2 separate regions of the Homo sapiens genome follow, and region 1 is linked to region 2. The links come from fine-mapping of genetic effects on gene expression. A gene starts in region 2. The other region holds a variant in brackets. All regions are shown on one strand. Distances are from middle to middle.

Region 1 (15,589 bases), 59 kb after region 2:
TGATTGTAGAAAATTCCAAGTTTTTAACAATTCTGTTAAATTGAGGATGATAGTTATATTTACTTGGGTTTTTTGTTGCATATGTATCATATCTATATATATTCATGTACATAAGAAACTGTGTTAATATATTCCTATTTTGTAGATTAGTTTTCCATAGGTCAACAGAGAAGAATATATGTAACTTGTAGAGAAATATTATTGTGCGTGAACTGGAGAACCATGGGAAGCCTGTGTTTAAGGAACATAGACTGCTTTTTGATTAGTAATCAGTAGTTGCTATGCCACATTGATAAAAGTAGTTGCTTATGTGCTATCAGGGAGCAGGGACATGGAATAATGATTTTTTAAAAGCTTTACCTTGATGTCTATGTCTCTACATTAGACAATTGTATGTTCAGGGGATAGAAGGAACAGTTGCAATGATCAGCGTCTCACCCTGGGCAGCTGTTGATTTTGTAATTAATGTAGTTCAAAAGAAGCCTTTCCAAAGTTTTTTCTTAGGGAGCGCAGTATGTAAAGTTGTTTTACTTAAAGGTTAGGTAGGGCTTAAATGGGACAGATCCTCACAGAACCACTAATCTGACCTTTTAAAAATCTATGTCACGTCCGTAATCCTCAACACTCCACCCCTCAAACAGAAAGGAGCTGGGAAATGGTCGTGTTCCTTGCTTATTCTTCCCTCAATATAAGTACACCCTATCCTATAGCCATCATCCGTTGAAAGACAATTGGTGTTGCCGGTGTTTATTCAGAAGTTGATTGGTTAGGCTTGGAATGAAGTTGCCAAAATAGCCACTCGCAAAGAGACTGTGCACGCAGGCTTGGGTCGAAAGTCATCAGTGACTGAATGCTCTATTGTGCTGATAGTGCTGGTGCAGCTTCAGGTCACCCTCCCACCCCAGGGCGGTGGTGATGGGGGTGGCTGATGGCCTTAATAGTGGAAGAGAGAGGTGTAATTAATTCTTAATTTTTAGATTGTTGGGCCAATGAAGGTGATTTTTTTGTCACTCTTTGTGTTTCCACTTCCTGAATAACACTCGCTACCATCATTACCATGCAACCAGAGGCAGCTCCCTCTTCCATTCCCTTCTCAAGTCATATGTCCTTTTTCAGAATTGTCTGCATTACTTTTCTACCTTTTAGACCCTCAAATGCTTGTCCTTGGTTAGGTGTTAACATGAAAATAATTTGGTTAAAAGAAAAGATGATGCTATCATACCATTATGTTTCTGAATTAAATAATTTTCATGGCTGGGCGCAGTGGCTCACGCCTATAAACCCCAGCACTTTGGGAGGCCGAGGCAGGTGGATCACATGAGGTCAGGAGTTCAAGACCAGCCTGGCCAACGTGGTAAAACCCTGTCTCTACTAAAAATACAGAAATTAGCCGGGCATGGTGGCACGCGCCTGTAATCCCAGCTACTCAGGAGGCTGAGGCAGGAGAGTCCCTTGAACCTGGGAGGCGGAGGTTGCAGTGAGCAGAGATAACGCCACCACACTCCAGCCTGGGCATCCGAGCTGTAGGAGATTGGTCAGGGTGGTGGGAAAAATCGTAGAAAGATGCAAACCTTCTTGGAAGGCCAGGGGTTTGCAAAGCTTCAAAAGAAAATTTGGCTGAAGGCAGCTGAATTCTCTTAAGAGCTTAGGTTAGATAACAAGGGGATGTAAAGAAACTAATCTAGATAAGTTAGTTTACTTAGGCCTCAGAACCTGGCCTTTAATCATCCAGACGCAGGACTGCGTGGGGCGGGGGAGCGGTGCGACCATGTTAATTACCCACAAGTGTGTTAACTCAAAGCCTTTGTCATTAAATCTGTGCTGAATAAATGCCCACAGCGCCAGCTGAGCAGGGCCACGGTTTACAGCACCCTCCTGGGGTCTGTGTGCTGCCCGGTCCCCTAGCCCGCTCTTTCACTGGATACCTGTGTCTGAGTGCATTCTTTGATCTGTCATTCAGCCAGGGTCTGCGGGTCGGACCTGGCACAGAGTGAGACTCTGTCTCAAACAATAATAATAATAATAATAATAATTTTCATGAGAGGAGCACCACCTAGATTCTTTCTCCCTTAACCATTCAAGTTCTAAGGTCTCACTCTTTCCCTTCACTGTTTCTGTTATTTTTCACTGGTCTGAATGACCCAGATGTAGCATTAGGGTTTAGTCAGGATATGGAGTAGTCCCACTTCACTTTCCAGGTAGTCAGCAATATCTTAGTGTTTGAGTGAAGAGCTGCATTAGGAATCTTAAGGTGGAGGTTGGGGTAGGTGGCTTGAGTTGTGGAGCTTAGTCTGTGTGGTTTTGGAGCAAAGAGGATGATTTCTTTAGCCTCATTAGGGATAGTAAGAGCTGGCACCAGTTCATAAGAATGGCTTGTTTAGAAGTTGGAGACGACCCTGAAAAACCAACAACATCAAGCCAAATGCAACTATTGGATTGACTCCATCGTTGATTCTCTAGTTGATCCTAGACAGGTCATTTAATCCTTCCATGTTTTTATTTTATGATCTTACTGTCATAAGGAACATGATGGCCTTTTGTGCAAATATATTCTCTTTATGCTTACTTAATCAGAAAGAATCAGTAAACCTAGAGATCACATATTTCCTAAAAGAGATAGATATATGTCACCTTAAATAGGCTAGCTAGAAAAGAGTGTACAGCAATTGAATATGCTGGTGATAAATTGCAAAATACTGATTTAATAAAATCCTAAATGAGAAGAAATATATTTTAGTCCATGTTTTGTTTAACGTAGTACAAAACAAAACAACCCAAAAGATTTTTCCAAATTATATTTGCTTATACAGATAAAGGCAAAATGAAGAAAAGCAAATTCATGTTTTGATTAGGAACCGTGCAGAGAGAGAGACTGCCTTTCTCTATATTAACACCTTAATATTTGGAATCAGTGTCTATGAATAAGGTGACAATGACTTACAAAACTATTCTTTTTCAGGCAAATGGGGAACCATTTGCTGGTACTTATGATTATTAGCTCGGGCTTAATCTGACAAAAAGGAAGAAACCCCTAAATAGAGATGGAATCTGCTGTCATGTTCTCTTTTTCAAGATCCTGGCCATGGAGTTAGCTAGCCTAAATTATTTTATATGTGCCTTTGAAGGGATTGTTACCTACATGAAGTAAGATAAATGTTAAATACGTACTCCCTATTATTATTATTATTATTATTATTATTATTATTTTGAGACAGAGTCTCGCACTGTTGCCCAGGTGGGAGTGCAGTGGTGCAATCTTGGCTCACTGCAACCTCCGCCTCCCAGGTTCAAGTGATTCTCCTACCTCAGCCTCCTTAGTAACTAGGGCTACAGGCCTGCGCCACCACACCCAGCTAATTTCTGTATTTTTAGTAGAGATGAAGTTTCACCACGTTGGTCAGGCTGGTCTCAAACACCTGACCTCAGGTGATCCACCCGTCTTGGCCTCCCAAAGCGTTGGGATTACAGGGATGAGCCAGGGCGCCCAGCCCACACTCCGTATTATTAAAAGCCCCACAGGATTCTTCTCAAGTTTTCTGTGAACAGATACGTTCCTGTAAATAGGAAACAACATAACTTTACTGTGCTGCTCTGCACGTTTATGTCTGCTCATGTTTATGTTTCTTTTCCCGGAAAGGCTGTTTTGGGAAATCTTAAGTATTTTGACAACTATAACGTGCCCTTGTTGGTCTTAAATTCCTGCAAATAATAGAGGAGCAATTTCTATGATTTAAATGAAAGTGCTCCAGTGAGAGAAAAATATTCTTTGAATGAAGAACTAAGTCATAAAAGGTACTTTAAAACAAACTACATACACACCTCGGAGATACTGTGGGTTTAGCTCCAGACCACGGCAATAAAGTGAATATTGCAATAAAGCAAGTCACACATGTTTTTGGGTTTAAAGTACATATGCAAATTATGTTTACATTATACTGTAGTCTATTTAGTATACAATAGCATTTTGTCTAGAAAAAATAACATACATACCTTAATTTAAAAATATCTTATTGTGGCCGGGAGCAGTAGCTCACACCTGTAATCCCAACACATCGGGAGGTGGAGGCAGGTGGATCACTTGAGGTCAGGAGTTTGAGACCAGCCTGTCCAACGTGGTGAAACCCTGTTTCTACTAAAATTACAAAAAATAGCTGGGTGTAGTAGCTTGCGCCTATAGTCCCAGCTACATGGGAGGCTGTCAAAAAAAAAAATCTTATTGCTAAAAAATGCTGATTATCTGAGCCTTCAGTGAGTCATAGTCTTTTTGCTGGTGGAGGGCTTTGCCTCTGTGTTGATGGCTGCTGACCGATCAGGGTGGTGGCTGCTGAAGGTTGAGATGGCTGTAACCATTTCTCAAAATGAGACAACAATGGTATTTGCTACATTGACAGACTTTTCATAAAAGATTTCTCTGTAATATGTGAGACTGTTTGATAGCATTTTACTTACAGTAGAACTTCTTTCAAAATTGAAGTCAGTCTTCTCACATCCTGCCACTGCTTTGTCAACTCAGTTTATGTAATATTCTAAATCCTTTGTTCTTGACTGGGCACTGGTTCATGCCTGTAATCCCGCCGAGGCGGGCGGATCGCTGAGGCCAGGAGTTCGAGACCAGCTTGGCCAACATGGTGAAACCCCATCTCTACTAAAAATACAAAAATTAGCCAGGTGTGGTGGTGCGCACCTGTAATCCCAGCTACTGGGGGTCGGGGTGGGCACCTGTAATCCCAGCTACTGGGGGAGTGATGGTGACAGGGGTGAGGACTCAGGGACAAAAATCACTTGAACCTGGGAGGCGGAGGTTACAGTGAGCCAAGATTGTGCCACTGCACTCCAACCAGAGTCTCACTCTGTCTCAAAAAAAGAAAAAAATTCTTTTTTGTCTTTTCAGCAGTGTTAATAGCATCTCTACCAGAAGTAGATTCCATCTCAATAAAACAGTTTCTTTGTTCATCCATAAGAAACACTTCCTCATTCATTCAAGTTTGATTATGAGGTTACAACATTTCAGTCACATCTTCAGGCTCTACTTCCCTTTTTATTTATTAAAAAATTTTTTTTTCTTTAGAGACAGAGTCTTACTCTGTCACCCAGGATGGAGTTTAGTGGTGTGATCATAGCTCACTGTAACCTTGAACTCCTGGGCTCAAGCAATCCTCGTGCCTCAGCCTCCCAAGTAGCTGGGACTACAAGCGTGCCATCAAGTCCAGCTAGTTTTTTAGTTTTTGTAAAGAAGGGCATGATATGGTGCCCAGGCTGGTCTTGAACTCCTGGCCTCTACAATCCTCCTGCCTTGGCCTCTCAAATCACTGGGATTACAGGCATCAGCCACCACGCCCGGCTATGTTTCTTATTTCTTTGTATGAACCTAGTGTGACACTAAATCCTAATTAGTATTTACATTTTTCTTAGTTTGATGTAAAATAAAGTAGCATGTTATTTAAATAGAATATGAAATTTTAAAATAATGCTATTCCTTTCATATGAAACAAAAGTTTGCTTTATACTTACCTTACCCAATTGGGGTACTTATATTCCACAGAAAATTTACAAGTAGTACAGTTTTAAACAATATGCCAAATTAAATATGATACAAAAATTGATTCAAAGAATGGATATCATATAGACATCAATTTTCCAAGGTCTGATTTGGAATAATGTAGATTATATTTAGTAAAAAAGGAATCATACAAGCCATTATGCCATTATTGAACATAAATAGCACAGTACCATGTAAATGAGGCATTTACCAAGTGAGTATTACCAGTGAGTTATATGTGAACTTCATTTTACATAGACAAATGACTTACTGACAAATATTTAACACAATAGTATTTATATTATTTATAATTTTCCCTTTGCTCTAAGTTGCCAGTACAATTTTTGAAGAGACTTGTTAATGAAAATTCATGATATCCTTGTTTTCTTTCTTTAGGGTGTTTATAAGAATGGAAGTGTTGTTTCCTTGCCCGATTCCTTCATGCTATATCTCATGAACCTCTGTAATCTTGGGGGAGAGACTATATTTAATGATGACAAACCTGTCACCAGTGTAGCAACAACAGTGTGAGGACAAAAGCAAATAAAAATTAAGAAGCGTTCAAATTTATATTCAACAAGGAAGTCATTTCAATCAACAACTTCTGCTGCATTATTTTTCCAAGATGAACCGATACACAACCATGAGACAGTTGGGGGACGGCACGTATGGGAGTGTGCTTATGGGCAAGAGTAATGAATCCGGGGAGCTGGTGGCCATCAAAAGGTACTGTGTGTGACACTGCCAACTTCACCTTTGAAAACTCTGCTCTTTATTTTCCTGTCCTCGCTTAAGAATATATACCAGCACAGGCCAGCGCGGTGGCTCATGCCTGTAATCCCAGCACTTTGGGAGGCCGAGGCGGGCGGATCATGAGGTTAGGAGTTTGAGACCAGCCTGGCCAACATGGTGAAACCCTGTCTCTACTAAAAATACAAAACTTAGCCAGGCATGGTGGCACGCGCCTGTAATCCCAGCTACTCAGGAGGCCGAGGCAGGAGAATTGCTTGAACCCAGGAGGTGGAAGTTGCAGTGAGCTGAGATCGCGCCACCGCACTCCAGCCTGGGTGATACAGTGAGACTCCGTCTAAAAATATATATATATACGTGCACACGCACACACACACACACACACACACACACACACACGTGCACACAGGCTGTGTGCGGTGGCTCATGCCTGCAATCCCAGCACTTTGGGTTGAGGTCAGGAGTTTGAGACCAGCTTGGCCAACATGGTGAAACCCTGTCTCTACTAAAAATACAAAAATTAGCCAGGCATGGTGGTGCACACATGTAATCCCAGCTACTCAGGAGGCTGAGGCACGAGAATCGCTTCAACCTGGGAGGCAGAGGTTGCAGTGAGCTGAGATTGCACCACTGCACTCCAGCCTGGGTGACAGAAGGAGACTCCATCTCAAAAAAAAAAAGAATATATACGAGCACAGAAAGAGGTCTAGTTTAGATCAAATAGCATCTGGCTCATGTGGAATGTCATTCTTGGAAAAGAACATTGCCAAAGAGGAATTCTGCTGTTTTTCTTCTATATTACTTTAACTGTCTGGCTTGTCCAGCTACACTGATAAACCAAAAAATATGAGTGCCTCCTTTTTTATATGTATAATACATTTGGACCAAAACTACAGGTGATCTTTGGAATGTTCTTCCAAATTTATTTGTTGGTTTTCGTTTTTGTTTGTGTTTTTTGAGATGGGGGTCTCACTCTGTTGCCCAGGCTGGCGTGCAGTGGTGTGATCATGGCTCACTGCAGTCCTGACTTCCCAGGCTCAAGCAAGCTACCCACCTTGGCCTCCCAAAGTGCTGGAATTACAGGTGTGAGCCACCATTCCTGACCTGTTTTTCACATTTAAAGTTGAGTGCAGAGTAGGGCTTATTATTTCTTTAAAACAAGGTCTCAAAATCAGATGGTATTCATAATGTCAAATTGAGTTCTGAATGATATATGTTATATTCCTGAACTTATGAAATAGAATTGTTGTTAATTTGTTTGTTTTTAATCCACTGTGTTTATCTATTGCTGCATAACAAAATACCTGCAAAGCTTAGTGATTTAAAATAAGAAGAAACATTTATTAATTCACATAGTTTCTGTGGGTCAGGAATTTAGAAGTAGCTTAGCTGGGTAGTTCTGGCTTGGGTTCTCTGATGGCAGTCAGATAATTGGCC[G/A]AAGTTTCAGTCATCCGAAGGCTTGACTGGGACTGCAGGATCTACTTCCAAGGTGGCTCACTCTTGGTTTGCTAGGGCTGCTGTAACAAAGTATCACAGACTGGTTGGCTTAAACAACAGAGATTTATTTCCTCACAGTTCTGGAGGCAAGAAGTGCAACATCAAGGTATCTGCTGGTTGTTTCTTCTGAGGCCTCTCTCCTTGGCTTGTAGACAGCCATATCCTCTCTAGGTCTTTATATGATCTTCTCGTTGTGCATGTCTGTGTCCACATTTCCCCCCTCTTTTTTTTCAAGACAGGGTTCCATTCTGTCGCCCAGGCTGAGGTACGGTGGTACAAACATAGCTCACTATAGCCTCAGCCTCCTGGGCTTGAACCATCCTCCTGCCTCAGCCTCCAGAGTAGTTGGGACTGTAGGCGTGTACCACAACATGTGGCTAATTTTTAAAAAATTTTTTTGGAGTGATGGGGTCTTGCCATGTTGCCCAGGCTCCTCTTATAAGGACACCAGTCATATCAGATTTGGGCCTACCTGAAAGACCTCACTTAAACTTAATTACCTTTTTAAAGACCCTATCTTCAGATACTGTCACACCGTGAAAGTCTGGGGGCTAGGACTTCAATATAGGAGTTTTGGGGGACACAGTTGAACCCATCACACTCACTCACAGGGTTGGCATATTTGTACTGGCTGTTGGCAAGAGGCACCTCAATTCCCTTTTACAGAGGCTCCTTCCTTGGGCCTTTCCAGAGGGTTGTTTGAATAGCCTCGGGACATGGCAGTTGACTTCCACCAGAACCAGTCCCGTACTCATGGGATACGCATCTCCACATTACCACATCAACCAAATTATGACAAACTAAAATTTAAATACTTTAGCAAATGTTTTAAAATATTATGATCTAAACCATTACATGTACAAGGAAATAACTTCATAAAATATTTTTAAATAGTCATTATCATCAGATAAGTAAATATATAATATACAATAATGGAAATGAAAAATAAATTGAATAGGCTTAATAAAATTCAGTGCTCATTTGTGATTTGATGAACTAAAAAAAACAAACATTGATTTCTTAAAAAACTTATGATAAAGCCTCTTGGCTGAATGCAGTGGCTCACACCTATAATCCCAGCACTTTGGGAGGGCAAGGCAGGAGGATCGCTTGATCCCAGGAGTTTGAGACCAGCTTGGCAACATGGTGAAACCCCACCTCTACAGAAAATACAAAAATTAATTGGGCATCGTGGTGCTCACCTATAGTCCCAGCCACTCGGGAGGCTGAGGTGGGAGGATTGCTTGAGCCCAGGAGGTCGAGGCTGCAGTGAGCCAAGATAGTGCCACCACTACTGTACTTCAGCTTAGGTGACCTAGTGAGACCCTATCTAAAAACAAAAACAAAAGTAAAACAAAACAAAAACTTAGCAAATAGGAATAAAAAGAAACTTCCCTAACCTACATAATTCATATTAATGTGAATTAGTACGAAAACCTATATAATTCATATTAATGTGAAATATCAGAAGTAATATCAGTACAAATTGTTTGAAAACCCCAAATGCCTGCTAGCAGTCCTGCTGATTAGGATTGCATTGGGGATACTTACTACTGCTATAAGACAGAAACCTAAGAAATGAGTGTTATTAGACAAAATGAGCTGAAATAGCCCACATTTGTAGATTAAATGATTATGTAAATTCACACAAAGAAATACTTTATTATATACAAATACATCCATATACAAAAATATTTTTAAAGGCCTGGAAAGATACACCCAAAATCCATGATAGCCATGGGTTCTGGGGAGGAGGGTAGGCGAATCAGAAGGGGTGTTGGGTCTTGGGTACAGTCCCACAGATGGTTATTACTGTCTGGTTTTATATGACAAAATGTCCATCATTTTTTTCTGAGTGGCAAAAATATGGTATTTGTTTTATCCTTCAAAAATATGGTATTTGTTTTGTTTTGTTTTGAGATGGATTCTTGCTCTGTTGCCAGGCTGGAGTGCAGTGGCGCGATCTCAGCTCACCACAACCTCTGCCTCCTGGGTTCAAGCGATTCTTCTGCTTCAGCCTCCCGAGTAGCTGGGATTACAGGCATGTACCACCACGCCTGGCTAATTTTGCATTTTTAGTAGAGACGGGGTTTCTCCATGTTGGTCAGGCTGGTCTCGAACTCCCGACCTCAGGTGATCCACCAGTCTCAGCCTCCCAAAGTGCTGGGATTACAGGCGTGAGCCACCGTGCCCGGCCTACTGTACTCTTTTAATTGGGAAAGCAAAAGCTTTCTCACATCCCATCCAGAATGCATAGGGTTTCTTCTCGTTGATCAGAAGTGTACCACATGGCACCCCTAGCTGCAGGGAGGCTGGGAAACTGATTACTTAGCTGAGCATTTTATATTCCTGTGTAAAAGCTGACTCTGTGAATGAAGAGGTAGAGAAGGAGGGCTTTCAGCTACTCAGCTTACCGTGTGTCTGCCACATGCAGTATCTACTGTGTGTTGGGCAGTGCTCCACCTTAGGCAAAGATGGAGCAAAAATGAATGAGAAGAGGAGTCCCATGGAAGACTTGAAGAAAATTGAAAAATTCATTTAGCACAAAATTGTTAAACTCCTGTTGTATTTCATGATCGGGACAAAATAGATGTCTTACAATATACTCAGGAAGACCAACAGATTCAAGAAGTTACAACATCAAGTATGCTAAGTCCTATGATGGGGGAATATTGGGTCCTGTGGGAGCCTAGATAAGCCACACTGGAGAAGTATCACAAAAGTCTTCCCAAGTCATTGAGACCTCAAGAATGAGAGAAAATTATTTTTTTAAAAGGGGGGGTGGGGGGAAATGCTCCAGGGAGTAAGAAATAGTACGTATGAAGCCCTGGAGGCGAGAGAGAGTGTGTGAGGGCCTAACTGGGGCTGAGTAACTGAAAGAAGTGTAGGTGGCTGGAGCGTGGATTACGAGTGGGGCAGAGGAGGGACGTGAGGCTAGCAGGTGAAGTCGTGAAGCCAGATGAAGGAGCGTGTATATCTTGAAGACTAGAAGGTCATGAAGGATTTTCAGCAGAATTGTTGATGTGATCAAATTTTTGGAACTGGCTGATTAGCAGAAGAGTGGAGACGATTGAAGAGGTCAAGACTGGACACCAGGTGGCCAGTTAGAAGGTCAATACAGTCATCTTGGTTAGAGGTTAGAAGGTCAGTGCAGTCATGTTGGTTAGAAGTGGTGGTGGCCTGACAGGAAAATAGCTTTGGGGATGGATGTAAGTGGATACAGTCAAGGGACATGTAGGAAGCAGGCTCTATAGAAACTGGTGACTGGGCATGAGGGTGGAGGGAGGAGTAAAAAATGGGGAAGAGTCCAGGCTAACTCCTGGGATTCTGGCTTAAATGTATAGTGGTGGTGCCATGTACCATGTACCATGTCAAGGAGGGGAAAATCACAGGCTTAGGGGTAAAGCTGAATTCAGTCTGGGGCATGATGACTTTTAGTCAATTGAATATTTGCATTTAAATCTCAAAACAGAGGTGCAGGCTAATGATTTGGAATGGTTAGTCTACAGATGGCAATTGAAACTCTTTAGAGGGAGAAGAAAAGAGGTCCTCATTTAGGGCACCGAGAAACCATGGCATATAAAGGATGGGCCCTGGAATAGGATCTTACAAAAAAGTCTGAGGAGCCACCAGAGAAATAGGGTAGAAACCAGGAGAATGTAGAAAATATCTGAAACCAAGGGAAAGATCTAAAGAAGCAGAAGCACGTATCAAGAAGTCTGGAGTGTGATGATTCCAGAGCTCTTTCAATGGCTCAACATTGTACCCAAGAAATTCAGATGTTTTCTATGATTTTCATGCTGAGCGGTTAGCATTGTTTTTGTCCTCAAATGTGTCACCTAATGACCACCTTATGGCTACTTCACCTCCAGGCATTACGTCCATGTTCAAGGAGGGAAGAGGGCAGAATAATACGAGCAAACTCTTCTCATCTTTTATCAGCTAGTGATAATTCTTCCCCAGAAGTCCTCAAGGACATCCCCTTACATCTTACTGGCTAGTATTGGGTCACGTGGTCTCTCTTCCAAAGGAGGCTGAGAGAGTGAGTATTTACTCTTCCAGTCTCTATATTAGGAGGCAGAAGGAAAGGGGCTGGAAATGGCCTTGTGATATTTCAACAATATCATCGGCTGTGGTGTTCCTTGGGTTTGGGGAATATGACATAACTGGCGGCCACGGTGAGCACTGTTCCAGTGGAATAGTGGAAGCCAGACTGCAGTGGGACAAGGAGTAGCGGGAAGTACGGCAGTGGAGGCATGGAGCTTTGGAGAGTTGTGAAGGATGAGTTACTGAGTTGTTAAGAAAGCCACAAAGGGGTTGCCCAGTGTCAGGAAGAGTCCGCCTGAAATTACATGGACGAATGTGAAAGTGGAGCCGCTGGGAGCATTTTCATGACTTTGCTTTCCACCTCCACCCATCTGTATGGAGAGGGGAGACTGGAGGATGACAAGGCAGGAGAGGGGAGACTGGAGGATGACAAGGCAGGAGCAGTGGAACGGTGGGAGAAGGGGATGTTCAGAACGTGTGTGTGATCTTGAGAGTGTAGTGGGTGAAAGGCTGATGGTGGGGCCAAGCTGGATGAGGAGGCAAACCACGCCACACAGGTGGTTGTAGGAATAGCCACAAGTTGAACAAGAAAGAGGTTGTATAAAGAAGTTTTGAGGGTAGCGACGGTGAAAAGGATAGGAGGTTATGATCAAGAGTCTGAAGTTAGGTTGTTAGGTCTTGGACAGTAGGACCATTCCTCATAACAAGGAGTTTATGGTAACTGTGGTAAGACAGAGGTGAACATCTCTTAGGAGTTAAGCAACTGTGAAGCCAGGCTACTGGCAGGGTTATCAGTTTAACCTACATTGAATATTCACTATAGCCGTTACTCCTCAAGTCTGAATGAGACAGTGATTGTTATCTACAAGAGTCATACAAGCAGGCTTTGCCATCTCTTTAAAGCCCGATATAGAGGGATAAACTTTACCTGAAAATTACAGATATTAGAGTCTTCATTCTCCCTTCTCATTTTTTTTTTTTGTTTGTTACCAAAACAATTCACATCCCATAATATCCTATCAATCTTTTGCTTGGTGATATAAAATTTTAGGCATTTCCAATTTAGGCTATAAATATTCTAGGTATAACTTGTTAGATACCGCTTTAAGATCCATCGATACTTTTCCCCTAAAATTAAAAATAAATTCCAGGCCGGGTGTGGTGGCTGATGCCTGTAATCCCAGCACTTTGGGAGGCCAAGTGGGGTGGATCACCTGAGGTCAGGAGTTTGAGACCAGCCTGGCCAACAAGGTGAAATCCCATCTCTACTAAAAATACAAAAATTAGCCGGGTGTGGTCGTGTGTGCCTGTAATCCCAGCAACTCAGGAGGCTGAAGCAGGAGAATCACTTGAACCCAGGAGGCGGAGGTTGCAGTGAGCTGAGATCACACCACTGCATTCCAGCCCAGGCAACAGAGTGAGACTCTGTCTCTAAATAAATAAATAAATACGTTCTACATTGAATACATTTTGTGGAGTAGCTGAAGAAGAGCTGCCTATTCTTAATTTTCAGAGTGGGCAGTAAACATGTCCCCTTAAAGGGAAATTGATTACCTGGAAGGTGTTTTCATTCTAAAAACCTTTTAAACAAAAGAGCCGGTGTCGGGGGCTGGGAGTGGGGGTTTCTATTGGAATTAGAGAAGTTCAGCTATGGAATTTAACAAGTTCCATGTGTTATTAGATATGGAATTTAACAAGTTCCATATGGAATTTAACAAGTAGGAAGTAAACAAGTTCAGAATTACGTTGAGAAGCAGAGAAGAAGCTGAATGCTGGCCCTCTGCTTTTGGGAGTTGGCCTGAAGAAGCAAGGGCATGGCATGGCAGTTGGTAGATGATGGACAGGGTGGTGTAATCTGCTAATGTAAACATGGAGAAGAAAGTCTGTGCTTAATTCAGCAGGCAAACCTTTTGAGCGGTCTAGAAATGCAGTCAAAACTGGCTAGGATGTGTTGGAGGGGGAATGGTTAGAAGTTGGGAGAACACTACACTGAACAAAATAAGAGGTTTCTTTGAATGTTTCCTTTGGGGAGTTTTAATTTAGATCACTGAAATCTTGTCTTTTCTGCAATTTTTTTTAAAAAAAGTTATTTACTTTATGATAGAGGATGGTAGAAAGATTCCCTCACTTAATTAAGTTAATAAATATCTATTAAGCCCTCTGCCCTTTAAGAACTTGAGAGGTAGTTCTATTTCTGAAGTTGATTTCCTGTGTCAGATGGGAACACCATGGTACCATCTCTTATTTGTTCATTGCCCTGGCATGGAGTGGATATTGACGAATTAATAAATGACAAAAGATGGCAAGGAACCTAAAAGGAAATGCCTTTTCTTAGCTATTCTAAGCAATTGGTTTACCTTTGGGATAATCATTTTGTAAGGAAACTTCTGTATTTGTTGTAAATAGATACATGCATTGCCTTAGGGAAGGGAAGTACTGCTGAGAAGTGGTAATTGCTGGAAAGAAGAAGAGATGAAGAGAGTACATCTGGATGGATGAAGAGAATACAGATTTTTTTTTTTTTTGAGACGGAGTTTTGCTCTTGTTGCTCAGGCTGGAGTGCAATGGCGCGATCTCGGCTCACTGCAACTTCTGCCTCCCAGGTTCAAGCGATTCTCCTGCCTCCGTCTCCCAAGTAGCTGGGATTATAGGCATGCGCCACCATGCCCAGCTCATTTTTGTATTTTTAGTAGAGACGGGGTTTCTCCATGTTGGTTAGACTGGTCTTGAACTCCTGGCCGCAGGTGATCCACCTGCCTCAGCTTCTGAAAGTGCTGCGATTACAGGTGTGAGCCACCGCACCCGGCCAGCTTTTTTTTTTTTTTTTTTTTTTGAGACGGAGTCTCGCTCTGTTGCCCAGGCTGGAGTGCAGTGGTGCGATCTCAGCTCACTGCAAGCTCTGCCTCCCGAGTTCACGCCATTCTCCTGCCTCAGCCTCCCAAGTAGCTGGGACTACAGGCGCCCGCCACCACGCCTGGCTAATTTTTTGTATTTTCAGTAGAGATGGGGTTTCACCCTGTTACCCAGGAGGGTCTCCATCTCCTGACCTCGTGATCCGCCCGCCTTGGCCTCCCAAAGTGCTGGGATTACAGGTGTGAGCCACCGTGCCCGGCCTCAGATTTTTTTTTTTTTAAGAGACAAAGTCTCCCTGTGTTGCCCAGGCTGGAGTGCAGTGGCTATTCACAGGCTCGGTTATAGCACACTACAGCCTCTAACTTTTGAGCTCAAGCAGTCCGCCTGCCTCAGCCTCCAGAGTAGCTGGGACTACAGGCGCACACCAGCATGCCAGTGAGAGTGCAGATTTTACAGGTAGAATGAAAGTTTCAGTTATCACTGAAGCTTGAAAAGTAACTTGAACGTATTTTTATTTGGCTTCTAAAAGATTGGATACTTTTAAAATTCTAGACCTGGAGTGGTGGCTCATGCCTGTAATCCCAGCACTTTGGGAGGCTGAGGTGGGCGGATTACCTGAGGTCAGGAATTCGAGACCAGCCTGGCCAACATGGCAAAACCGCATCTGTACTAAAAATACAAAAATTAGTCGAGCTTGGTGGCACACACCTGTCATCCCAGCTACTTGGGAGGCTGAGGTAGGAGAATCGCTTGAACCTGGGAGACAGAGGTAACAGTGAGCCGAGATCACGCCATTGCAGTCCAGCCTGGGTGACAGAGCGAGGCTCCATCTCAAAAATGAAATAAAATTCTGAAATTACGTTTCAAGAATCATAGCAGGCTGGGTGTGGTGGCTCATGCCTG
Region 2 (15,589 bases):
TCAGGTGATCTGCCCACCTCAACCTCCCAAAGTGCTGGGATTACAGGCGTGAGCCGCCGTGCCAGGAATTCTTATTCTATGTAGTAGAAGAACTTCCGAGCACACTTTGTGTTCAGTCTGCAAACACAGTTGTCTTTAGAAGTATAGAGTTGGCCAGGCGCGGGAGCTCACGCCTGTAATCCCAGCACTTTGGGAGGCCGAGGCAGGGGAATCATCTGAGGTTGGGAGTTCGAGATGTGGAATATGATGAGGTTTCTCTTCGAATAATCTGATCAATCTTTTATTCTCTAATTCATAGTACCCCCCCCTTTTGTTCTCCTTTCTCCTTTTTGCCTTTGTTAGATGCCCAGGCACGCCACGGTAGCAAGCGTTATCAGTACCAGCTCACATTCCTTTCCTTATTTGAAAAGAGGACTAACTTTCTAGCTCATTACAGACACCCCTTCCCCTTCCTCTCCACTTTCTCTTACATGCCCACCCTATCTAAAAAGAAAAAAAGGAAATGTTTAGCCAACCGGAATTAGATTGTACGACCCGACCCCGGCCAATGGGGAAAGGGTACAGGGGCAGGACTTGCGTCAGGAATAAAGGCCCTCGTGCCCCTTTGTTCAGGTGTGCTCTCATGGCAACTGGCCAAGGAGGTACCCCTCTGCGCAGAAGAAGTCCTATTCATACCCCAAAAGGTCAGCTTAGGGTTCCAAGGTACACTTAGGACATCTCTGCCTCATTTCCTTTGAGATTTTTATCTCCTTTCCCCTGCTTCCTGTTATCTGCAGAAGTTGGCGTATCAACAGGTCAAGTGGGGTTATATGCAGAACGAAATATATACGGTTTGCATAAACACAGTCCTTAATTCCCCCTGCAAACACTTTAAAGTCCCTGAGAGGAGTCTGGGAAAGCCTGGAGTTTGCTTTCTCTCCTGAGGGGGTAGCTTCATAATTAGACGCATTTTAGAGTAACAAAGGGCAAAGACAGATCTTGGCCCAATCTGGCCTCAATAAACTTCTGGTACTGGAGCTCAAGGGGTAAATCAAAGACATTATTAGCAGCCAGATGATCCTTCCACCCTACTTCTTCCCCACATCTCCTCGTCAATAAACAAACTTGCCTCTGGGCTGCAAAAACCTCACCACTAAAAGAGCGGAACTGCAGCAAGAGATGTTGCAGATTCTGCTTTACTTCCAGATGCCGTTATAAAGGCACTCGCCATGTTATCTCTTGGTTATTATTTTTAAAAGAATAAAAGCTGATAATTTGGGTAACTTTGAATAAGCAAAAATGTTTCTGCTATTTGTTTTTTCAGATTCATCCAAGGTTTAGAAAATGGATAAAGTGAGGTGTTACAAGGGCAAAGAAAAGTTTTTGACGATCATTTTTCTAGGTCTAATCTTGTTAATAAAGTCTATTAAAATAGTTCTAGAGCCTACTCCTACTCATTTTCCCCCAAATTCACTAAAATAATTTAAAATAATAATTACTGCATAGGCTCAACAAGGGCAGTGGTTGTGTCTGACTCGATCCTGTGCACTCCCAAAGTGCCTTCTATAGCAGGTACATCAGGAAATGTATGTCGAATTTAATTTTTGGTTAGACAGAAGCAATAAGAATGGATATCAATTTCTTTTCAAATTGGATTTCAAAGGAACAGAAAATACCAAACTTAACTAGACAACTAAATCCACCTAAGTTCTCTAAGTTACCCAAAGCCATATAAAATTAAAATAGGACACTTATCTTTGGGATCAGTCCCTGCCGAATTAGCAGAGGTTCATCTTCTTTCAGGCCATCTACGAGGAATCGCTGAATACATTTCAGCAACAGTGACACAGACTGAAATTCATTTTTATCTAGTTCCTAGGTATAAACCACACTAAGTTAAAACACTTATAAATAATTATACATTTGTATTTTGGTCACAAAGCAAACCAACTTGCCTTATTTATTGATCTGTCAAGACGGTATAATAGAAGACGATTATATTTTTGAGGAAAGTGGCTCTCTTTCTGTTGAAAGTATTCTTTTATTTTCTGAAATCCTTTATCATGGAATGCATCCGTAATAAGTGATTGAAGCTGGAAAGATGATAGTTTGCAAATTACTTTTTCCCCAAGAACATTTATTTTATAGTAATTTTCTAACTGATCTCATTATCAATAAGAATTCAGTGTGAAATAATATAGGGTAAATATAGAATGGAGATCTCTATCTTGAATAGTAAACAATCATTTCACAAATGATTGATGTTTCCGTTGGTTTAAGACAAGAGTTCCCAAAATGTGGTTCCTAGACCACCAACAGCGCTGGCATCACCTGGGGACTTCTTAGCACTCACACTCAGGGCAGAGCCTTTCACGTGATTCTCGTGCATGCTGAAGTCTGGGAACCACTGACCCAAGGAAAACAACACTTCAGTTTCAGATATCATTAGGTGAAGATCCTCAGCAATGTTGGGAATTCTAAAACACTAAAAATTTCAAGCCTATGATCACTCACTAAGTGACATAAATGATCATAATAGAAGGAAGAAAAATAATACTAATAATTATAGATAATAAGTATGCAAATTGACCATAATGAATGAAATTCATCTTTTCTGCCTGCACATTAGCTAAGACATGCTTCTAAGTACATATACTTGAAGGGCCGGGTGCAGTGGCGCACGCCTGTAATCCCAGCACTTTGGGAGGCCAAGGCAGGCGAATCACCTGAGGTCAGGAGTTCGAGACCAGCCTGACCAACATGGAGCAATCCCATCTCTACCAACAATACAAAATTAGCCAGACGTGGTGGCGCATGCCTGTAATACTTGGAAGGCTGAGGCAGGAGAATCGCTTGAACCTAGGACGGAGGTTGCGGTGAGTCGAGATCGCACCACTGCACTCCAGCCTGTGCAACAAGAGCAAAACTCTGTCTCAAAAAAAAAAAAAAGTATATATACTTGAATAACAGACATTTCCTTAAACATTTAAACTATAAAAGATTTTTTATCTTTAAAAAAATCTTACAGGTTAAATATACAATACTATTTTAATAAGGAAGCAATTTACTATATACAGCCCACAATTCCACTTATTCTTAGTACTGAATTAAAAGGGAAAACAGCATTTAAAATTATTCCATTTAAACAGAATGTTTTCTTTTTTAAGTTAACACATAGTGAGCTTTTTTGTGCCAAGTGTGTTAAGTGTTCTGCAGATGTTATTATTTAATCCTTACCACGGTCCTGAGAGGTTAGGTTCTTTATCTCAGGATACAAGTAGCAAGGATAGGAAAGGTTACAAACTTATGTGAGATTGCTCAGCTGAAATTCACTCCCTTTTACCTGCTTAAAACTCTGCCATTACCAGGCGCAGGGCTCACGCCTGTAATCCCAGCACTTTAGGAGGCCAAGGCAAGAGGATCGCTTAAGCCCAGAAGTTTGACATCAGCCTGGGCAATATATTGAGACCCAGTCTCTACAAAAAATGAAAAACTAGCCAGGTGTGGTGGTTCATGGCTGTAGTCACAGCTACTCAGAAGGCTGAGGCAGGAGGATCACTTGAGCCCAGGAGGTCAAGGCTGCAGTAAGCCATGATTGTACCACTGCACTCCAGCTGGGGTAACAGAGTGAGATCCCGTTAAAACAAAACAAAACTTTGCCATGGCTTCCTCTGCATTAAAAATAAACCCAAAATCCTTTGCTTTAGTCCGCAGAACGTGGCATGATCTGATCTCTGACAGTCTGACCTCCTTGCTAATGAGTCCTAGGATAAGTCAAGCTCTTCCTTGCCTCGGGGCCTTTGAACTGGCTGTTCTAGGCCTGGGCTACTTCACCCCACCACTTTCCACATGGCTGGTTCCACTCAGATCACAGCTTAAGCATCACTTTTTCAGGTAGATCTTCCAGGACCACCTTATCTTACGTAGACCAGGTGCCTCCTCAACATTCCCAATTATTCCCCATCTCATTACCCTGTTCTTTTTCTTCCTGCTTCTTTGGCTCTCTGCCAGTCTATAAGCTCCATAAAGGCAGACGTTGTTTCTAGTTTGTTCAGTATCATCTATCTGCATTTAGGGCACAAGATATCTGCACAGGGCACAAGATAGTTTAGACTAGGATATTGGTAAGATAGCTAATGGTAAATTGACTAGATATAGTAATAAATTGGACATGAGAGATTAGGGAAGGAGAAGTAAAGATTTCTCTGCTTCTGATTTGAGCAACTGGAGGAACAAGTTTGCTAATGACCCAGGGAACACAGAACTAGAAAGAATACATACACTCATATACACATACACACACACACACACACACACACACACACACACACACACACACACACACAGAGAGAGATTATAAAAGAAACTTGATCTTTACCCAGAAAGCATCATCCTGGGCCTTCCCAGTCCTGTCTTCCTTAATAGGCTGCAAAGCATCTTTGTTTTTCTGTGTGGAATAAAAACATGTTTTTAAACAATTTTTATTTCAAAGAAATGCATTTCAAGTTTTAAACACAAAGCAAAAAAAAAAAAAAAAAAAATTAAAGGTTTGTATTGTTTTCCTGAACAGAAATTTTTGTTTGCTCATATTATAGGTCTAAGTAAAATAGTACTTAGAAAAAAGAGAAAAACTTTATCCAACCTTCTTTAGCATGGTCTAAGACAAATACAGTACAAACTATCAGAAGAAGCAAAGCAAACATCATTTGAATAAATAATCACACAAAATAAACAAACTCTATAATGATGATTATAAAGTAGAAGTAAAAAGGCTTTGAACTAATAAACCATTTTCAGAATGAGAGCTTGTAAAATAAAGTTAAATAAAAGTGTCTTTAAGGCATCATAGTACCTGACTTCAAAATATACTACAAAGTTATAGGAACAAAACAGCATGGTACTGGCATAAAAACAGACACATATGTAGACCAATGGAACAGAATAGATAAACCCAAAATAAATCTACTTTTTTATAGCCAACTGATTTTTGACAAAGGTGTCAAGAACATTCATGGGGAAAAGACAGTCTCTTCAATAACTGGTGCTGGGAAAACTGGATATTTATATGTGGAAGAATGAAACCAGATCCCATGTCTCACCATATACAAAAATCAACTCAAAATAAACTAAAAGCTTACACTTAAGATCCCAAACTACTAGAATAAAATATAGGGGAAACACTTTAGGACATTGGTCTGGGCAAAGATTTTATGGAGAAAACCTCAAAATCACAGGCAATGAAAGCAAAAATAGACAAATGAAATTATACAGACCAAAAAGCTTCTTACAGAAAGGGAAATAATAGAGTGAAGAGACAACCAGCAGAATGGGAGAATATATTTGCAAACTATGCATCCAACAAGCCATTAATATCTAGAATATACAGGGAACTCAAACACCTCAACAGCAAAATAACCAATCCAATTAAAAATGGGTAAATAAGCTAAATAGACATCTCTCCAAAGAAGACATACAAATGACCAACAGGTATATGAAAAAATACTCAACATCACTAATCATTGGAAAATGCAAATCAAAACCAAAATGAGATATTATCTTACCCCAGTTAGAATGGCCATTATCAAGACAAAAAACAACAAATGCTGGCAAGGATATGGAAAAAGAGGAACTCTTGTACACTGTTGGTAGGAATGTAAATTAGTATAGACAATATGGAAAACAGTATGGAGGTTCCTCAAAAAACTATCATAAATCCAGCAATTCCACTCCTGGAGATATATCCAAAAGAAAAGAAATCAGTATGTCAAAGGCATATCTGCACTCCCATGTTTACTGCAGCGCTATTCATAATAGCCAAGATATGGAATCAACTTAAGTGTCCATCAGTGGATGAATGGATAAAGAAAATGTGGTATATTCACACAGTGGAATACTTTTCAGCCAGAAAAAAGAACAAAATCCTGTCATTCATGGTAACATGCATGAGCCTGAAGGACATTATGCTAAATGAAATAAGCGGGGCACAGACAGACACACTGCATGTTCTTGATCACATGTAGAGGCTAAAAAAGCTGATCTCGGCCGGGTGCGGTGGCTCATGCCTGTAATCCCAGCACTTTGGGTGGCCGAGGTGGGTGGATCACCTGAGGTCAGGAGTTGGAGACCAGCCTGGCCAACATGACAAAACCCTGTCTCTACTAAAAATAGAAAATTATCCGGGCAGGGTGGCGCATGCCTGTAATCCCAGCTACGGGGGAGGCTGAAGCAAGAGAATCGCTTGAACCCGGGACGCGGAGGTTGCAATGAGCTAAGGTTGCACTATTGCACTCCAGCTGGGGAAGCAAGAGTGAAACTCCATCTCAAAAAAAAAAAAAAAAAAAAAGGCTGATCTCATAGAAGTAGAGAGAATAGTGGTCACTAGAAAAGAGGAAGTGAGATAGGCAGAGGTTAGTTAATGAACACAAAATTACAGCTAGCTGGAAGGAGTAAGTTCTAGAGTAAGATAGTACTGCAAGGTGACTATAATGTACAACTTATTGTATATTTTCAAATAGCTATACGAGTAGATTTTGAACATTCCCAACACAAAGAAATAAATATTTGAGGTGATGGATATGCATAATTACCCTGATTTGATCATTACACACTGTATACACATATGGAAATATCACACTACACCCAATTAACATGTGCAATTACTATGTGTCAATTAATATATGTGTCAATTAAAAATAAATGATAAAGGCAAAGAAAAAGAACCATTGTGTTAGTGGATAATTGAGTAGAGGCAAAAGTGAGATAGGAGGAACAGCTAAAGCTACAATTAAAATTGGGTGTTAGGCCAGGCGCAGTGGCTCACGCCTGTAATCCCAGCACTTTGGGAGGCCAAGGCGGGCATATCATGAGGTCAGGAGTTCGAGACCAGCCTGTCCAATATGGTGAAACCCGTCTCTACTAAAAAATACAAAAATTAGCTGGGCGCAGTGGCACGTGACTGTAGACCCAGCTACTCGTGAGGCTGAGGAAGGAGAATCACTCGAACCCAGGAGGTGGAGGTTGCAGTGAGCCGAGATCCAGCCACTGCGCTCCAGCCTGGGTGACAGAGTGAGACTCCGTATCAAAAAAAAAAGGGTGTTAATTCATAGCATAAACTGACATCAAATAAACACTATGCTACGTATCTATAATTTCTAAGTTTTGTCAACAAATTCTGAATTAGTGGGAAATACTTCCCATCCCAAAGAAAATATTCCCGGGAGCCTTTATGTTAAGCTTCTTTACCTCTTTTCTCTATAGACACGGCCCTATCTCTCCTTCAGTTCAATTCGTATGCAGAGATGCTCTGCTTATTTTTATTTCTACCTCCTTTCAACCTTCTCTGGCCTTGGTGGTCAGTACTTTGCAAATTCCAAAGAAATGCTTCCTGTTTCTGGAATTTCTGGAGCCACTCTAGTACACAGAAAGGTATCCCCCTTCTGTGAAGATCATGTGGCAGCTTTTGTGGGTAGGAACCTGACAGGAAAATCAGAAAGTGGGATGGTTTAGGCAGAAAAGATCGTTAGATTCTCTGAGATTCAGTCTCCTCATTTAAAAAACATGATGATAGCCGGGCGCTGTGGCTCACGCCTGTAATCCCAGCACTTTGGGAGGCCGAAGCGGGCAGATCATGAGGTCAAGAGACAGAGACCATCCTGGCCAACATGGTGAAACCCCGTCTCTACTAGAAATACAAAAATTACCCTGGCGTGGTGGCGCGCGCCTGTAGTCTCAGCTACTCGGGAGGCTGAGGTAGGAGAATCGCTTGAACCCGGGAGGCAGAGGTTGCAGTGAGCCAAGATCACGCCACTGCACTCCAGCCTGGGCGACAGAATGAGACTCCGTCTCAAAAAAAAAAAAAAAAAAAAAAAAAAAAAAAAAAAAAAAAAAAAAAAAGATGGTAACACCTATATGGAAGGATTGGAGTGAGGACTGACTGACAGAATGTCTGTAATGTTCTTAGCATAGTGCCTGGGCACATAAAAATGGCTCAGTGAATGGCAGCTTTCAATGTAACAGGGATGGAGAGGGTGAGGAGGTTATGCTTAAGTGCTCTGAATTTAAGCGTAGCTTGATGTTAGAAAGGTTTCTGTCCCAAATCTGTTTCCCCATGGCTGGGAAGATGGCGCCAGATGACAGATGGATTTTATGGAGAACAAGAGTGAGTTCCTGGATCTAGGCAAGCAGTTACCCCTGGCTATCAGAATCACCTGGCGTCCTCACTAACAAACTAACAAACTACCGGCCCACCGTAGACCAATTACATCAGAATTTCTACCACCAGGAACCCAGGCAGAAGAATGTTAGAAACACGCCCCAGGTGGTTTTTGTTTGTTGTTTTTGGCGTCCCTGGGTGGGCTCAAACTTCATGTGTTTTTTTTTATTATTTATTGATAAGTAATAATTGTAGCTTTATCTTAGGGGCTGTCCTTTGTCGTTCGGTTAAATGAAGTCCCAGCACTTGGGGTTGCTTAACACTTCTGCACTTTCTACGCAGCAAGGTGGAAAGAGGGCTGGAAAACCGGCTAGGAAAATACGCAAAGCAACTAGAAAAGAACTATCTCATTGCTTTCCGAACACGAATTCTCCGGTTCCCCTTTCCCTGAGCGCTATTTAGCTAGGGATCCGAGGTTTCTATTCTGCCTGGTCTCCCCGCAGGCTGCCAATACACTCCGAGCAAACCCAAGGAGGTGGCGGGGGACTATGCCCAGCACCCGGTCTCTGAGCGAACACCTCAAGGCGGCAGAACCTGAGCCCCAGGGACCCCGCGCCCTCGCGCGCCCTAGCACTGTGGACAGAAGGTCCGGGCCCTTCGGGGGTCACTCACCGCTTGCATAACGAGGCTTCTTCGTTCCTGAAGCGACGCGCCGCTCAGCTTTGTTGCGCTCGGTCGGCCCTCTCCTGCTTCCCCGCCCAAGAGCCCCGCCCGCTGGGGGCGCTGCCGAAAGAGCCCTGGTGGCGGACCGCTCTTCGAGTCGAGTCTTCTTCCGCAACTGTAATTGACGAATCCGCCCCCTGAAGTTTACTAGAGCTCTGTGTTTTGAGACTCAAGAAGCGCGTGCAAGTAACTAGCGCACACAGGCCAAACCACCTGGGCGCACGCACTCACCCTTTAAGAGAAAGCCAGCACTCAAAGGATGTGAACTACGTCATTTAAACGTTCCTTATTTGCGAAATTCCAAACAGATAGGCGTTCGCTTTGTGGTAGCTGTTCCAAGTTTTTGCCCCGCCTTAAAAAGCCAGAGGGGCGGCCAGGCGCGGTGGCTCACGCCTGTAATCCCAGCACTTTGGGTGGCCGAGGCTGGTGGATCACTTGAGGTCAGGAGTTCAAGACCAGTCTGGTCAACATGGTGAAACCTTGTCTCTACTAAAAATACAAAAAATTAGCCGGGCGCGGTGCACGTGCCTGTAATCCTAGCTGTTGGGGAGGCTGAGGCAGGAGAATCACTTGAACCCGGGAGGCGGAGGTTGCAGTGAGCGGAGATCTCGCCACTGCACTCCAGCCTGGGGGACAGAGTGAGACTCCGTCTCAAAAAAAAAACAGCCAGAGGAGCAGTTTTTGGTCCATTGATGTGTGCAGACAGAAGCCGAACCCTTTCCTATGGTAACCAGACTTGTACCCGATATTATTAATACATTCCTGATTTCACACACACACAAAGTGTGTTTGGTGGTTGTTTTTTAAGTACCGTGGTGGGGAGGAAGGGGAATTTTTTTTTTTAATCAAAGCAAATAGTTTTGTTTTTGTTTTTGTTTTTTTGTTTCTTTGTTTGCCTATTTCCTTTAACCTGACAAGTATGCGTACCAATGGCTAGGCTGATTCGGATAGGTGGCCAGTTGTGTGAACACGGTGGCAAAATTAAATTGGACTAGAGTTTTCCACAAAAAACAAAAAAAAGACCCCTCCAATCCAAACATCCTTTGTGTAAAAATCAACTTGTATTATAACTAGACCTGTGAGTATTTCAAGTCATAATATGTACGGAAGATATTTGTCTACACCAAAGCAAAACATAACAAAACCAGAACCCCTGTTAGCCCAGGACTTGCACACATTTCTAGTCCGTTCAAAACAATGTTTATGTCAAAGCCTGTCATATCAATTTCCTGGAAAGTATAATGTAAACATTCTTACATTAATTTACCTATTTTAATCTAAACCAAGGAAATTCAAACGCAAGTTTTTTTCCTTTTCAATGAATGGACTTTTGTAATATTAAACTAGTAATCAAGACAGGAACAGCTGTGAGTATAAGCTATTGTGAGTCAATACAAATATAATACCAGGGCAAGAAAGAAACAATGAATAATAAGAAGCAATAAACAAAATACTACAGTTTAAATGAATTTTAAGAGAATATTTAAAAATTAGAGTTTTCATAATATTAGATAGAAAACTTAATCATCTATTATTTTCAGGCTTTGGGGGAAAACATGTCCTTCCAAAGTCTATGGTGCAATGCATTCAAATCTTTAAGAGAAATTAAAAATAACAGAATAGGCAAAATACCTTTTATCTGGTTTTTTTTTTACTTTGATTAGCTTCTTTTACTAACATGTTTTGTCTTAATATAATTTATGGCAACTTGAAATGCATACTCTAATTCTTCTCAAACTAAATATAGTAGAGGCTCTATGACATTTCTTTGGATACCAGAATCCCTTTAGAAATTAATTGATTTGCCTTTTACATAAAAAAGTTTTATTTATTTATGTTTTTGACGGGTCAGGTCTCTCTAGGAACATTCCAAAAGCACAGAGACAAGAACTATTCTAGCACTGCAATAAGACCAAAAATTAATTTCTATGCATTTTCAGAGGTAACTTTAAATCACCATTTTAAAGTTATTTTTAGAACATTTGAAAGGATAAGTTATCTTAGACTACAACATTTAATGAAATACTATAATTAAAATGGATAATCAATAAATTTTCATTCAATTTTGGAAGACAAAACAACACGAAAAGCAACTGAATCAACAGGAGTTTCGGGGACCTTTGGCAGACAGTTAATAAGATGAAAAATCTGTGAATGAAACTCGTGGGTGAAGAGTAGACAGATCTCTTCGTTCCCAGCTAGACCTCAGTGGCGACCATTTGAGAGTGATTTTAATCAGAAACCTTGACTGACAGGACCTTTTAGGAGGGGAGAACTTCGGGAGAAAGGAGGCTGGGAATGAACAAATCACTTTCTTCTGCTAGGACCCTTCGGCTTTGACTGGGAGGAGGACCCCAGCTAGAAGATAAAGGAGGAAAAAATCGCGAGGAACTGCTCGAAGTTGGCCTTTCTTCCCAACAGAGTTCGCTGGTCCGCTGCCACTGGCAGGCTTCTCTGACCGACTGGGATACTTTTTCTTTCTTCTTTCCTTTTCTTTTTTTTTTCTTTTTCTTTTCTTTCTCCTTCCTTGCTTCCTTCCTCTCTCTCTCTCTCTTTCTTTCTGTCTTTCTTTCCTTCCTTTTTTTTTTTTTTTTTTTTGAGACAGGGTCTCGTTCTGTCGCCCAGGCTCGGCGCTATCTCAGGTTACTGCAACCACTGCCTCCTGGATTCAAGCGATCCTCCCGCCTCAGCCTCCCAAGTAGCTGGGACTACAGGCACACGCCACCATGCCCGGCTTTTTTTTTTTTTTTTTTTTTCGAAGAGACAGGGTTTCGCCATGTTGCCCAGTCTGGTCTTGCACTCCTGGGCTCAAGCGATCCTCCCGTCTCGGCCTCCCAAAGTGCTGGGATTACAGGCATGAGCCACTGCGCCCAATCGCGGGATGGACTTTTCTAAGCAAGCCTCACTGTGCCTTTGGCGCGGGAAGTAAAAGGACAGGGAGCGTGGACCACCCTTAGCTTCCTGATGTGGTTTCGCTCTTCCTTTATCCGCCTTTTGCCAACCGAAGGCACTAATCCTGCAAGAGGCGTTGGCATGGGCGCCCTCCTGGCCGAGTCCCGGGCAGCACCCGTCCGTGCGCTCAGCACGGGCTTTGCGGTGCCAAGGCCTAGGGTGCGTCGCTTCCCGGGTCTGGAGGGTCATGGATTCGGTTCATCCTCCTCTATCAAGGGATCTGCCGTGAGGAGTTGGCTCCTCTTCTCTGGCTGGGGCTGGGAATGGAAGCGTGCAGCTGCAAAACAAGGACGCGGGCAATAAATTCCAGAAGCCCTTTCCCCTGGCCGCCAAGAATCCGGCCTTGGGGTAGTCAAAGAGTGACTTTAGTCACTTCAATCGGTTTTGTTTTGTTTTGTTTGTTTTTTGTTTTTTGTTTTTTTTATATATATATATACTGAGGGTCTCCATGTGCCGGAGTAGCCCTGGGCGAGTCGGCTGCTCAGATGATGAAGGTTTCGTCCCAGCCCCGGAGAACCCACATTGTCCTGCGCACCTCCGCACCACCGCGATTCTCTAGTCCTCCAAAGCCTCCCAAGACTGTAATGGAGTAAATTCAATTTCGTCGTGATATTTCCAAGACTATATCAGTGAAGTTTTTTTTTAAGAGTTGTGGGCCGGGCGCGGTGGCTCACGCCTTTAATCCCAGCACTTTGAGAGGCCGAGACAGGAGGATCACGAAGTCAAAAAATCGAGACCATCCTGGCCAACTTGGTAAAACCCTGTCTCTACTAACAATACAAAATTAGCTGGTCGCGATGGCGCGCCTGTAGTTCCAGCTACTCGGGAGGCTGAGGCAGGAGAATCGTTTGAACCTGGGAGGCGGAGGTTGCAGTGAGCCGAGATTGCGCCACTGCACTCCAGCCGGGAAGACAGAGTGAGACTCCGTCTCAAAAAAAAAAAAAAAAAAAAAGATTTGTGTTCGGGTGGGTGGCAACTGAGAGCTCGCCGAACCACAACCTCTTATTTAACAGATAAACAGATAAGGAAGCTGAGACCCAGAGGGAGCCAAAGCAGTGGAGAAAGCGAGTTCTTTGGGACTTTTCCCCTCTCCCCTTTCCCTCCTTCCCCAGGCTCCCACCTACCCCAGGCTCCCACCTACCCCGGGCTCATTTCCGCCCCCCACCTCCTCCAGGTTCACTTTGTAGGACTCCGTTCCTGCAGGGCCAGGTCCCTCCGAAGTCCCCGGGAGCGTGAAGGCGCCTGGGCTCGCGAGCATACGCGGAGGCTTGGCGCACCCTGGCACGTCCCAAACAGCAGAGCCAAGACTGCGAGACACTCACAATAGTTAGGGGAAGAGCCGGCAGTGGAGGCCCAAAATGGGCTGACCCCTAACTAGGAGGCGTGGGCGCGGTTATTCAGGCTAGGGCGCACGCGGACGGCAGAGGGGCCCACGCACGGTTCCCATGCTCTCCTGGAATTGAGTGTTGGCTCTCAGGGGACTTTGCTGGAAAGCCTCCATCTAAGCCCCTTTCCGAAATCAGGGAAGCTGGACGCGTTTAGAAAAAAGAAAAAAAATAGGCCGGTCGCGGTTGCTCACGCCTGTAATCCCAGCACTTTGGGAGGCCCAGGCGGGCAGATCGTCAGGAGTTCAAGACCAGCTTGGTCAGGGTTTCGCATGGCTAAAACCTGTCTCTACTAAAAATACAAAAATTAGCCAGGGTGGTGGCACGGACCTGTATTCCCAGCTACTCGGGAGGTTGAGGCAGGAGAATCGCTTGAACCTGGGAGGCAGAGGTTGCAGTTAGCTGAGATGGCGCCACTGCACTCTAGCCTGGGCAACAGAGTGAGACAAAAAAGAAGAAAAGAAAAGAAGAAAATAATAAGGTTTTAAACTTAAAGGATACATTCCTACTTACCCTCTCCACCCCCACCCTCTGGCTGCAGTTTCCATTTGCTTCCAGGGCTGAGTTTAACCTCCACCTCCGTTCCTGGGACTGTGGTGGAGGGGGCGACCGGCCCCTGGAGCGTGGGCGCTAGCGAGGTAGGCGAGACAGGGCGGAGCCCCCCGGAGGTATATCTTTATAAAGGAGGGGGCAGCTGCCAGAGGTCGATGCTGCCGTTCGGGTGGAGAACGTTCAGCACCGCGGCCAAGGACAAGGCCCCGCCCGGGTCCATAACCATTGTCCCCAGCTTCCAGATATCTAAACAGCCTCTCTCTCTTTCTCTCTCTCTGCACCTCCCCTTCACACACCCCACTTTCTTCTTTAAAGAGAAGAAAAAAAACCCACCTGGCGCACCTGTCCTTTTTTCTTCTATTTTTCAGAACCCTGGGCGGAAAGCGCGAGCGAGTTGGGCAGATGCCGGCGGCCGCGGTGCAGGAAGCGGTCGGCGTGTGCTCCTACGGGATGCAGCTCAGCTGGGACATCAACGATCCGCAGATGCCTCAGGTAAGTGAACCGGGTGTGTGCGGGCACGCGGGGCGCTGTCCATCCGAAGGAGGGAGAATGGCATTCGAGTTCTTGAAGAGTCTGCGGACGGACCATACACACACACACACACACACACACACACACACACACACACACACACACACACATACCCGCAAAATTTCTGGGTTTCTGAGGCCCTCTCAAGTGTAGAAAGAAAACTGGACTCTACAAAAGGCTGAGTTGGGTTTAGAAATGTGTCTTCTTGGCCGGGCGCTGTGGTTCATACCTGTAATCCCAGCACTTTGGGAGGCTGAGGCGGGTGGATCATCTGAGGTCGGGAGTTCAAGACCAGCCTGACCAACATGGAGAAACCCCGTCTCTACCAAAAATACAAAATCAGCCCAGCGTGGTGGCGCATGCCTAAAGTCGCAGCTACTCGGGAGGCTGAGGCAGGAGAATCGCTTGAACCCGAGAGGCAGAGGTTGCGGTGAGCCAAGATCACGCCATTGAACTCCAGCCTGGGCAACAAGAGCAAAACTCCATCTCAAAAAAAGAAGAAGAAGAAGAAGAAGAAATGTGTCTTCTCCCAGCAATTTCCTTGTGCTTGCCTGAAATCACAAGCAAAGCAGCAGGAAATGTTGGTCAGGCTCCACATTCCCAGTCTTGGGGAGAGCGGGACGCCTGTCCTTTCACTTCCCTTTAACCAAGGTAGAAATTAGGTGCCTCTCTCCTTATTCATTTACTTTAAATCCATGAGGAAGCTAAGGAGAAAATCTAAGCAGATGTAAATACCACTGCTTCTCATGCAGCAAAACTGAGGTACAACTGTAAAGTGAATCTAATGACCTAAATTTAAAACAAGTAGCCCGACTTGAGCAATTTGCTCAGACCTCCCTAACTGCTCAGAGGAAGGAGGCCCCATAGTCATGCCAACAAGGCCACCTGTACCCAAAACTTACTTCTTCTCTAATGACAAGCAAATCATCATTCTTTTAGGGTGAATTTGTTGTATTTTGCTTTATTTCAATAAAGCAAAAATGGTTTGGAGCCAAGTCCAAAGAATGACTGGGGTGGATGAAGTGGTGAATGAAGTGGGTGGTTTGAAGCCAGTTCCAGAGAATGACCAATTATCATTAGTCACACTGGTTAGGGCCAAAATTGAGTGATGTTGAAGTCCTGGCTGTAGGGGGTGGGGGGTGTAGAATGAGAGTTGCTTCCCTGCCATTTGCAGATGTGGGCTTCCAGCAATGTTGTGGCACAGGGATAAAAGAGATGGGTCATTTTGTCCGCAACTAAAATGTGTCTGATAGGTGTTCAGATGAATAACAATTCATTGCAACATTGTGTCGCCTCTCATAGAGGTCAGCACTTT

The links.
Region 1: its variant is fine-mapped to the expression of SYCP2L in cerebellum (GTEx, PIP above 0.99). The same link has a PIP of 0.9 or more in cerebellar hemisphere, nucleus accumbens and prefrontal cortex.

Annotation. Positions count from the first base shown.
Region 1 is chr6:10,821,224-10,836,812 of GRCh38, reverse strand. MAK (male germ cell associated kinase) reads left to right here. Exons shown (of 15, transcript NM_001242957.3): 2 at 5,936-6,265. The coding sequence starts at 6,165. Among named protein-coding and RNA genes, the nearest start is that of MAK, 9.5 kb to the left of the region's middle. The variant G/A (reference allele first, on the strand shown) is at 7,727.
Region 2 is chr6:10,880,350-10,895,938 of GRCh38, reverse strand. It overlaps SYCP2L (synaptonemal complex protein 2 like), which reads right to left and starts at 8,887. Exons shown (of 30, transcript NM_001040274.3): 1 at 8,804-8,887; 2 at 4,358-4,426; 3 at 1,935-2,072; 4 at 1,735-1,854. The coding sequence starts at 8,812. GCM2 (glial cells missing transcription factor 2) reads left to right here and starts at 13,898. Exons shown (of 5, transcript NM_004752.4): 1 at 13,898-14,235. The coding sequence starts at 14,146. RefSeq lists an enhancer at 8,952-9,720 and a silencer at 13,709-14,003.